Regions from separate parts of the Homo sapiens genome. Here all the other regions are linked to region 3. Evidence: fine-mapped expression QTL. A gene starts in region 3. Each other region holds a variant in brackets. All regions are shown on one strand. Distances are from middle to middle.

Region 1 (2,852 bases), 260 kb before region 3:
CACAATGGGAAATGTTTTCAGCACCCACAGCCTTATCACCATGAGACACAGTAGGAATGAATGTCAGGTTGGGGATGGTTAATGGCAACAACTAAGACCTACTATTTGATAGCAAAACAGGGTAACTACAGTCAATAAAAACTTAAGTGTACATTTTAAAATAAGTAAAAAAGTCTATGTAATTGGATTGTTTGTAACACAGTTACTTAGGGGATGGAAACCCCATTCTCCATGATATTTCGCATTGCATGCCTGAAGCAAAACATCTCATGCACCCAATAAATATATATATCTACGACGTACCCACAAAAATTAAAAGAAAAAAAAAAAGAAATGAAGCTAGACTCTTTTTTTTTTTTTTTTTTTTGAGACATAGTCTCACTCTGTCCCCCAAGCTGGATCTCTGCTCACTGCAACCCTGCCTCCTGGGTTCAAGTGATTCTCATGCCTCAGCCTCCCGAGCAGCTGGGATTACAGGCACATGCCACCAGGCCTAGCTAATTCTTAGTATTTTTAGTAGAGAACTTGGTGGAAGTCATGTTCCAGGTCTTGGCTTTGCACTTTTGCTTTTACCCTCTTGGAAAGCTGCTGGAGACCACCACGCTGTAAAGGAGCTGGGCTGGCCCACTGGAGGATGAGAGGCCACATGAAGGAGAACCGAAGTGCCCCAGCTAGCAGGCAGCACCAGGGCCCCAGACACATGAGTGAGATAGAATTGGACCTTCCAACCCAGCCCAGTTACCAGCTGAACGCAGTCACATGAGTGACCCCAGGAGAGAGCACCAGAACTGCCCAGTCGGCCCAGAGTCATGAAAAATAATAAATCGTTATTTTAAGCCATGAAGTTTTCAGGTAGTTTACTGTACAACACAGCAATCAGGTAACTGATAAATAGGTTATATTATATCATCTAAGCATTTCATTTCAGGATAGCAAGAAGCACACTATACAATGCTATGACAAGGGAGCACTGGGCCCAGTAGGGTTGAGTCACGGCTCTAATTACTTCCAACTGCTTTTAAAATAAAACCCACTTTGTTTACTGGCCCATGTGATGTTACGGCCGCTGCGGGGCTGACCCTGTCAAACTCACCTCCTCTCTCTTTTGCTCACTCTGCCCCAAACATACTGGCCTCCTTTTTGTCCCTGGAATAGGTCACAGAATTTGGCAGTACTGGGTCATTAGTAAACTTGAGTTGTACCAGACATAGTGAGCATTTAAATGCCAGAGTGCCACATTAAAGAAAGAATGAATGGTAAAAAGATGTAGGTGAGGTGATTCACTGAGTGTGTCAGTGAAAAGGAAAGAGAGAAAGAAAATAACCTAGACGATGCAGCAGGGTCAAATATGAGGACTTGAAAATGTTACTTATCATTAACTTTTATTTTTCCTGATTACAAAGGTAACTCGTGCTTCTTTTGAAATTTTTT[AAT/T]ATACCCAAAATATTGGAATATTAAATATAGGAGAGCAAAGGGTCAAAACTTTCATCTCTTTCCCATCTTCCATGTGATTCTTCACTTATTGGCCAACGAATTTAGATACTATTATCTGCATTCTGTTACCTTTGGCTTGTTGTATACATGGCTGCATAAATCGCTATACACACAGGAAATGTCTGTACAGTATCTATTGTTGGCCACAGATGTACTTCCACCAGCTATTTGTACAAAGCAATCATTTTCCGTTATTTACCTTTCACAGAGTATATTTGTTTAACACAATATAAAATACTGCTAGCACCCAGCTAATTTCACAGCAAAACTAGAAGGCCATTGGCTTTATTTGTAGATTGTCACTCTAATGCCATACAGATGCCACTTAAAAAATCTCAATTACTTTTTTTACATGATTGAAAATGACCCTTTGAGAAAGGGTTAAATAAATCTATTTCACTTGTTAAATTCGTATCATGAAATGTGGAGGTCTTGATCTAACTCTCAGGCTGAGATAATTCATGGAAATCATGTGCTTAAGGTTTATTCTCCCAATTGTAATCTCCACCAAAAATTAAGGATTAGGGAAATACCTGCCTATTAAATATGCTGAATTTTACATTGAGCATTTAAAATAGAGTTAAATATCTAAGATGGGCCAGGTGCACTGGCTTATCCCTGTAATCCCAGGACTTTGGGAAACCAAGGCAGGAGGACCACTTGAGCTCAGGAGTTTGAGACCAGCCTGGGCAACACAGTGAGACCCCATCTCTAAAAATAAAAATGAAAATAATTTTTAAAATGAAAAAATATACTATTTGTGTGCTTAGAGAAAAGAAGAAAAAATAATCTAAGCAGGAACAACTGTTTGTTTAGAAACTATATTAAATTCATAGTATTTAAAATGATATATATAAAAGAATCACAAGATGAGTGACTCAAAATCAAAATAATCAAGCTTGCATAGCTTTTGGGGAACAGGCCTGGGTTGAAAGGGTCTGCCTGATTCCAGAGGCTGGAATCATGGAATTGCTGAACCATGTACCACACAATGCCTGAATTCATGTGTGCAGACACACCTACACCTATACACACACCCACACACACCACACACCACACAATAGATGTGTGTGTAATTGGCCAAATGCTCTATGGCATAGTAATTAGGTGCCAGCTCTTGCTGTTTCTCTGTCTGCTCTGTTCCCCCTGGTCTTCCTTGGAGTTTCATGGTACTGGCAGGACAACCTAAATAAAAGGCTTGCTAACTTCTCACTCCTTTTCTCCACAGCCTCCAGACCCATCTTTCATGTCAGAATCTGACCTCTGCTTTCAGCAAGCTGTGTGACTGACCATCAGAGTGGAGCAGTGGTCAAACTCTTAGACTCTGGAACAATTCTTGGTTTGAGTCTTGGCTCTGC
Region 2 (2,500 bases), 80 kb before region 3:
AGAAGGATCACTTGAAGCCAGGAGTTTGAGACCAGCCTGGGCAACATGGTGAAGTCCTATCTCTACAAAAGATATGAAAATAATCCAGGTGTGGTGGTACATGCCTGTGGTCCCAGCTACTCAGAAGGCTGAAGTGGGAGGATGGCTGGAGCCCAGGAGGTGGAGGTTGCAGTGAGCCGAGATCGCACCACTGCACTCCAAGCTGTTAAATTTATGTGGTCTCTGCCCCCAGTTCCTCCCACAGAGCTCCTAATACCCTAGGAGATTTCCTGGGTGATAGGAGCATCTTTTGTCCTAATAAGGTGACTCCCGATGGGCTCCTGCAGAGCTTCAGGATGGGGTCTGGTCACCAGAAAGACCAAGCCATGATTAGAAGATTGGAGCTTTCAGCCCCATTCCCCATCCTTCGGGAAGGTGAGAGGGCTGGAGACCGAATGAATAATCAATCATGCCTATGCAACGATGCCTCAAAAAAAAAAAAACATGAAAAATGGGGTTTTGGGAGGCAGAGGTTGCAGTGAGCTGAGAATGTGCCATTGCACTCCAGCTGGGCGATACAGTGAGACCCTGTCTCAAAAAAAAAAAAGGGGGGGGCGGTTTGAAGAGCTTCCAGGTAGGTGAACAAGAACACATCGAGGTACCTGGAGGGGACATGAAAGCTCTGTGTGCCCCTTCCCCTGGGCCTCACCCTACGTAGCTCTTCATCTGGCTGTTCATCTGTATTCTTTGTAATATCCTTAATAATAAACTGTTAAGTACAAGTAAATACTAAATAATAAACTGGTAAGTATAAGTAAATGTTTCCCTAGTTCTGTGAGCCACTATAGCAAATTATTGAACATGAGGGAGGGAGGCATGGGAACTCCCAATGTGTAGCGAAGTTGGAGTTTCTGAAGTGAAGATGTCTTTTTTTTTTTTTTTTGGAGACAGGGTCTCGCTTTGTCACTAAGCCTGGAGTGCAATGGTGTGATCACGGTTCACTGTACCCTCGACATCCTGGGCACAAGCAATCTTCCTGCCTCCGTCTCCTGAGTAGCTGGGACTACAAGCACACCATCACACTTTGCTAATTGTTTTTTTACT[T/C]TTTGTAGAAGTGGGGTATCACTATGTTGCCAAGGCTGTTCTCGAACTCCTGGGCCCAAGGGATCTTCTCATCTAGCATCCCAAAGTGCTGGGAGTACAGGCATGAGCTACCATACTGGGCCAGGGCTGTCTCACTGAGGACCTTGCCCTCAAACCTGTCGAGTCAGATGCCAACTGCCGGCGATGGCTGCCTGAATGGAGTTGAACTGCAGTCTAGGGGAGGGAGAGAAGCACCTCCCATTGGGGTACATTTGCTGTTTTTGTCTGCCTGGCACCCATTCCTCCACCTCACAGGCTTAATACTTAATACCCCAATTTTTATTTGAGAAAACATCTCTCCCCCACACTCAGTTCCTACAGGCCTGGTGGGGTGAACTCTGTTCTCAGTTCCCAAGGTGAGCATTAGACCTACCCCAATCTATCAACTTATTCTATACAGCAGGTCACCAATGCTGGTTCAGGGTAGGGCGCATAACAAAACTGGGTCAATGAAAACTGCTTGAGAAAAGCATTTTCCTGCTGCTGATGTTGCTAACCTAACAGGATAGGCCTGGAGCTGCAGCAGCTCTTCTCAGCTATTCTGTTATGGTATGGGTGTTAAATCAAGTTTAGCCTAAAGCTGTCTCCTTACCTATTTTAAGTTTGGCCTAAAGGTTTCTCTGCACATAGTGAACTATAACCTCATTGGACATGTAAACAGAGTGTAACCTACTCTTGTGCCAATCACCAAGTTTTGGCCAATTAAAGGGGGCCAACTGGGCCGGGCACAGTGGCTCATACCTGTAATCCCAGCACTTTGGGAGGCTGAGGCAGGCGGATCACCTGAGGTCAGGAGTTTGAGACCAGCCTGGCCAACATGGTGAAACCATGTCTCTACTAAAAAGACAAAAAAATTAGCTGGGCATGGTGGCGGGCGCCTGTAGTCCCAGCTACTCAGGAGGCTGAAGCAGGAGAATCACTTGAACCCGGGAGGTAGAGGTTGCACTGAGTTGAGATTGTGCCATTGCACTCCAGCCTGGGCAAGAGTGAAACTCTGTCTCAAAAAAAAGAAAAAAAAGGGGGGGGCCAACTGTTCAAATTGGGTTCAAATAAGGCAAATACTGAACTGTAACCAATCCGGCTGTTTCTGTACCTCACTTCTATTTTCTGAATGTCACTTTCCTTTTTGTGTCCATAAATCTTCTACCACGTGACTGTGCTGGAGCCTCTCTGAACCTACTCTGGCTCAGGAGGCTGCCCAATTCATGAATTATTCTTTGCTCAATTAAGCTCCATTAAATTTAATTTGGCTCAGAATTTTCCTTTTATTTTTTTGAGATGGAGTTTCTCTCTGTTGCCCAGGATGGAGGGCAGTGGCGTGATCTTAGCTCACTGCAACCTCTGCCTCCTGGGTTTAAGTGATTCTCCTCTCTTAGTC
Region 3 (2,852 bases):
AAGGAAGAGAGAGAAGAGAGTGGATATGCCAAGAGGAGCAAGGGTGTTGTGGAGCAAGGAACTGAGAGCCCCAGTTTCACATGTGTCCTAAAAATCATCTCCCTTGTTCATTAATTCATTCAATTGTTCATTCAACCATGGCTTATTCTGTTAAGCACTGTTCTAGTCAGGCTCTGGGGACTTCATATTAAGCAAGTTCCTGCCCTATTGGGATTACATTCTGGTGGGAAAAACGGACAATCGTTGAGTAACAATTAAAGACTCACACAGAGGCATTCCTGATTATGAATGATAGAATGAAGGAAAGAAACTCAGGTCTGAGAGAGAGAAGCAGTGGGGAACTGAGAGCAGACAAGGAGGGCTGTGAAGATCAGATCTTGGAGAGGGCCTTGGAGCTGAGAATCAGAGGGTGGAGAGGAGGCAGCCAAGCAAAGGGAGTGGGAAAAGGACTTCACTCAGAGGACTCTGCCCTTGTTGGGAGGGGCTTGCTGGCTTCCAGGAATGGGGTGAGGGTGGTGGGGCGGGGAACAGTGGAGCCAAAGGGAAGTGGGGTTGGAGAGGTGGGAGGAGCCAGATGAGTCCTGCCTTTCTGTTAATTTAGATGAAGTTCTGTTCTGGATGTGGAGGAACGGGGTGGGGGGGCATCTCCCCATTCTGGGAAGCTTCAGTTCTTGGCAGAAGTGAGAAAGCTACTCCTGACCGTGGGCATCGGATGGGTGGTGATCAAACTAGGATGCATTCCCTCCCTGGCTTTTAGTGTCTGTTGGTTAGCCAGGGAACTTGAGTTAGGCACTGTATTAAGCATGTCTTTTTATTCTGATGTTTTGACATCTGGGGTCTTACTGACTCCAGCTCCCAGGGCTAGCTGCCCTTCCCTGGGCTAGCTTACAAAGCACACCTTTCAAATGCAAACCAACCAATCCAGATCCCACACCCGCAACCGCCCCCTTTATCAGGCTCTCACACTCTGGGCCACCACTCCCCTGCCCTAATCACCCCAGGGCCAGGTGCCAGACAACTCAGGGCGGATCCATATCCCACAGCCTACTGACAAACCAGCCAACCCTAAACCTGCTTCCCCTGCCTTGCCCATTCCTTACCATAGAAAACCACAATAAAGCCTCTAGCCCGTTTCCCCTCACTCCCTCTGCCTCCTGAACAACCCTGATGCTTCCCTGTGTGGTCCCTTGTGGCATAGAGTGCCCCCTCTTCTCAGGAACTGTGAGTAATAAACTATCTTTTTAGTGATGGTCATTCCTGACCTGTTGGGCTTCACCATACCTACATTATTTATTTATTTATTTATTTATTTATTTATTTATTTATTTATTTATTTATTTATTGAGACAGAGTCTCACTCTGTCACCCAGGCTGGAGCGCAATGGTGCAATCTTGGCTCACTGCAACCTCCACCTCCCGGGTTCAAGTGATTCTCCTGCCTCAGCCTCAAGAGCAGCTGGGATTACAGGCATGCACCACCACACTTGGCTAATTTTTGTATTTTTAGTAGAGACAGGGTTTCACCATGTTGGCCAGGCTGGTCCTGAACTCCTGGCCTCAAGTGATCCACCCGCCTTGGCCTCCCATAGTGCCGGGATCACAGGCGTGAGCCACTGCACCCGGCCTCACCACACCTGAATTATAATAAAACCTACGTTTTAAAACACACACCCATCCACCCAGTCTCTAAAACCTCCCCCAAGGCCACCTTCTCCTACCTCCAGATGGTGATGGCCAGGGTGCACAAGACCCCGGTGAAGGATGGGAAAAAGAGCAAGAAGATGAAGAAAGTCATCATCTGTGAGGCCCGCCAGGCTTTGCTCGGAGGCTGGAAATTCATCATCAGGCTGATCTGAAGAGAGAGAGGCAGCCACCTCCCATCTGCAGCCGGAGCAGCGGCAGAGGGACCCCAGCCAGGCCTGGCTTCCTGACACCTTTGCAGAGCCCCCTTCCCCAGCTTTAAGCGCCACCAGGTCACAGGTGACTGAACAAAGCTGATTGATGGCAATGTCGGACTGACTCACATTTTTGGAGTAGAACATGATGAAAAGCATAATCATTTGGATAAAGGGCAGCAGGGGGCAGAAGAAGATGCCAATCCTGTGAGGGAGAGAGGGTGAGTGTCAGAGGCTGGCGGAGACACAAGGAGTCGGGGTGAATCTGGGATGGTTGGGGGGAAGAGAAAGAAGATATTGTGGCCTGGATTGTGTGTCCCCAAAATCCATATATTGAGGCCTTAACCCCGAATATCTCAGAATGTGACTGTATTTGGAGACAGGGCCTTTGAGAGGTGATTAAGGTAGAATGAGATCACTGTAGGAGGCCCTAATCCAGTACAACCGGTGTCCCTAAAAGAAGAGATTAGGAGGCCAGGAACGGTGGCTTATGCCTGTAATCCCAGAACTTTGGGAGGCCAAGAGGGGGTGAATCACCTGAGGTCAGGAGTTCAAGACCAGCCTGGGCAACATGGTGAAACCCCATCTCTACAAAAAATACAAAAATTAGCCAGGCATGATGGCGTATGCTTGTAATCTTAGCTACTTGAGAGGCTGAGGCAGGAGAATCGCTTGAACCTGGGAGGCGGAGGTTGCAGTGAGCCGAGATTGTGCCATTGCACTCCAGCCTGGGTGACAGAGCAAGACTCCATCTCAACAACAAAAAAAGAAGAGATTAGGACATAGACACACACAGAAATGAAGACCATGTAAAGACATGGGGAGAAGATGGCCGTCTATAAACCAGGGAGAGAGGCTTGAGACAGATCCCTCCCTTATGACCCTCAGAAGAAACCAACCCCACCCGCACCTTGATCTTGGCCTTCTGGCCTCCAGAACTGTAAGATATGAAATTGA

The links. PIP is the estimated chance that this variant, and not a neighbour inherited with it, causes the effect.
Region 1: its variant is the best candidate, but not a certain one, in a credible set for the expression of TMC5-AS1 in whole blood (INTERVAL, PIP 0.51).
Region 2: its variant is the best candidate, but not a certain one, in a credible set for the expression of TMC5-AS1 in whole blood (TOPMed, PIP 0.67).

Annotation. Positions count from the first base shown.
Region 1 is chr16:19,743,669-19,746,520 of GRCh38, reverse strand. The region is part of intron 4 of IQCK (IQ motif containing K); the gene reads right to left. Among named protein-coding and RNA genes, the nearest start is that of IQCK-AS1, 21 kb to the left of the region's middle. The variant AAT/T (reference allele first, on the strand shown) is at 1,432.
Region 2 is chr16:19,566,393-19,568,892 of GRCh38, reverse strand. The region is part of intron 2 of VPS35L (VPS35 endosomal protein sorting factor like); the gene reads right to left. Among named protein-coding and RNA genes, the nearest start is that of VPS35L, 12 kb to the right of the region's middle. The variant T/C (reference allele first, on the strand shown) is at 1,084.
Region 3 is chr16:19,486,193-19,489,044 of GRCh38, reverse strand. TMC5-AS1 (TMC5 antisense RNA 1) reads left to right here and starts at 1,144. Exons shown (of 3, transcript XR_007065016.1): 1 at 1,144-1,221; 2 at 1,725-2,116. It overlaps TMC5 (transmembrane channel like 5), which reads right to left. Exons shown (of 22, transcript NM_001261841.2): 16 at 2,025-2,100; 17 at 1,719-1,852. RefSeq lists an enhancer at 349-1,037.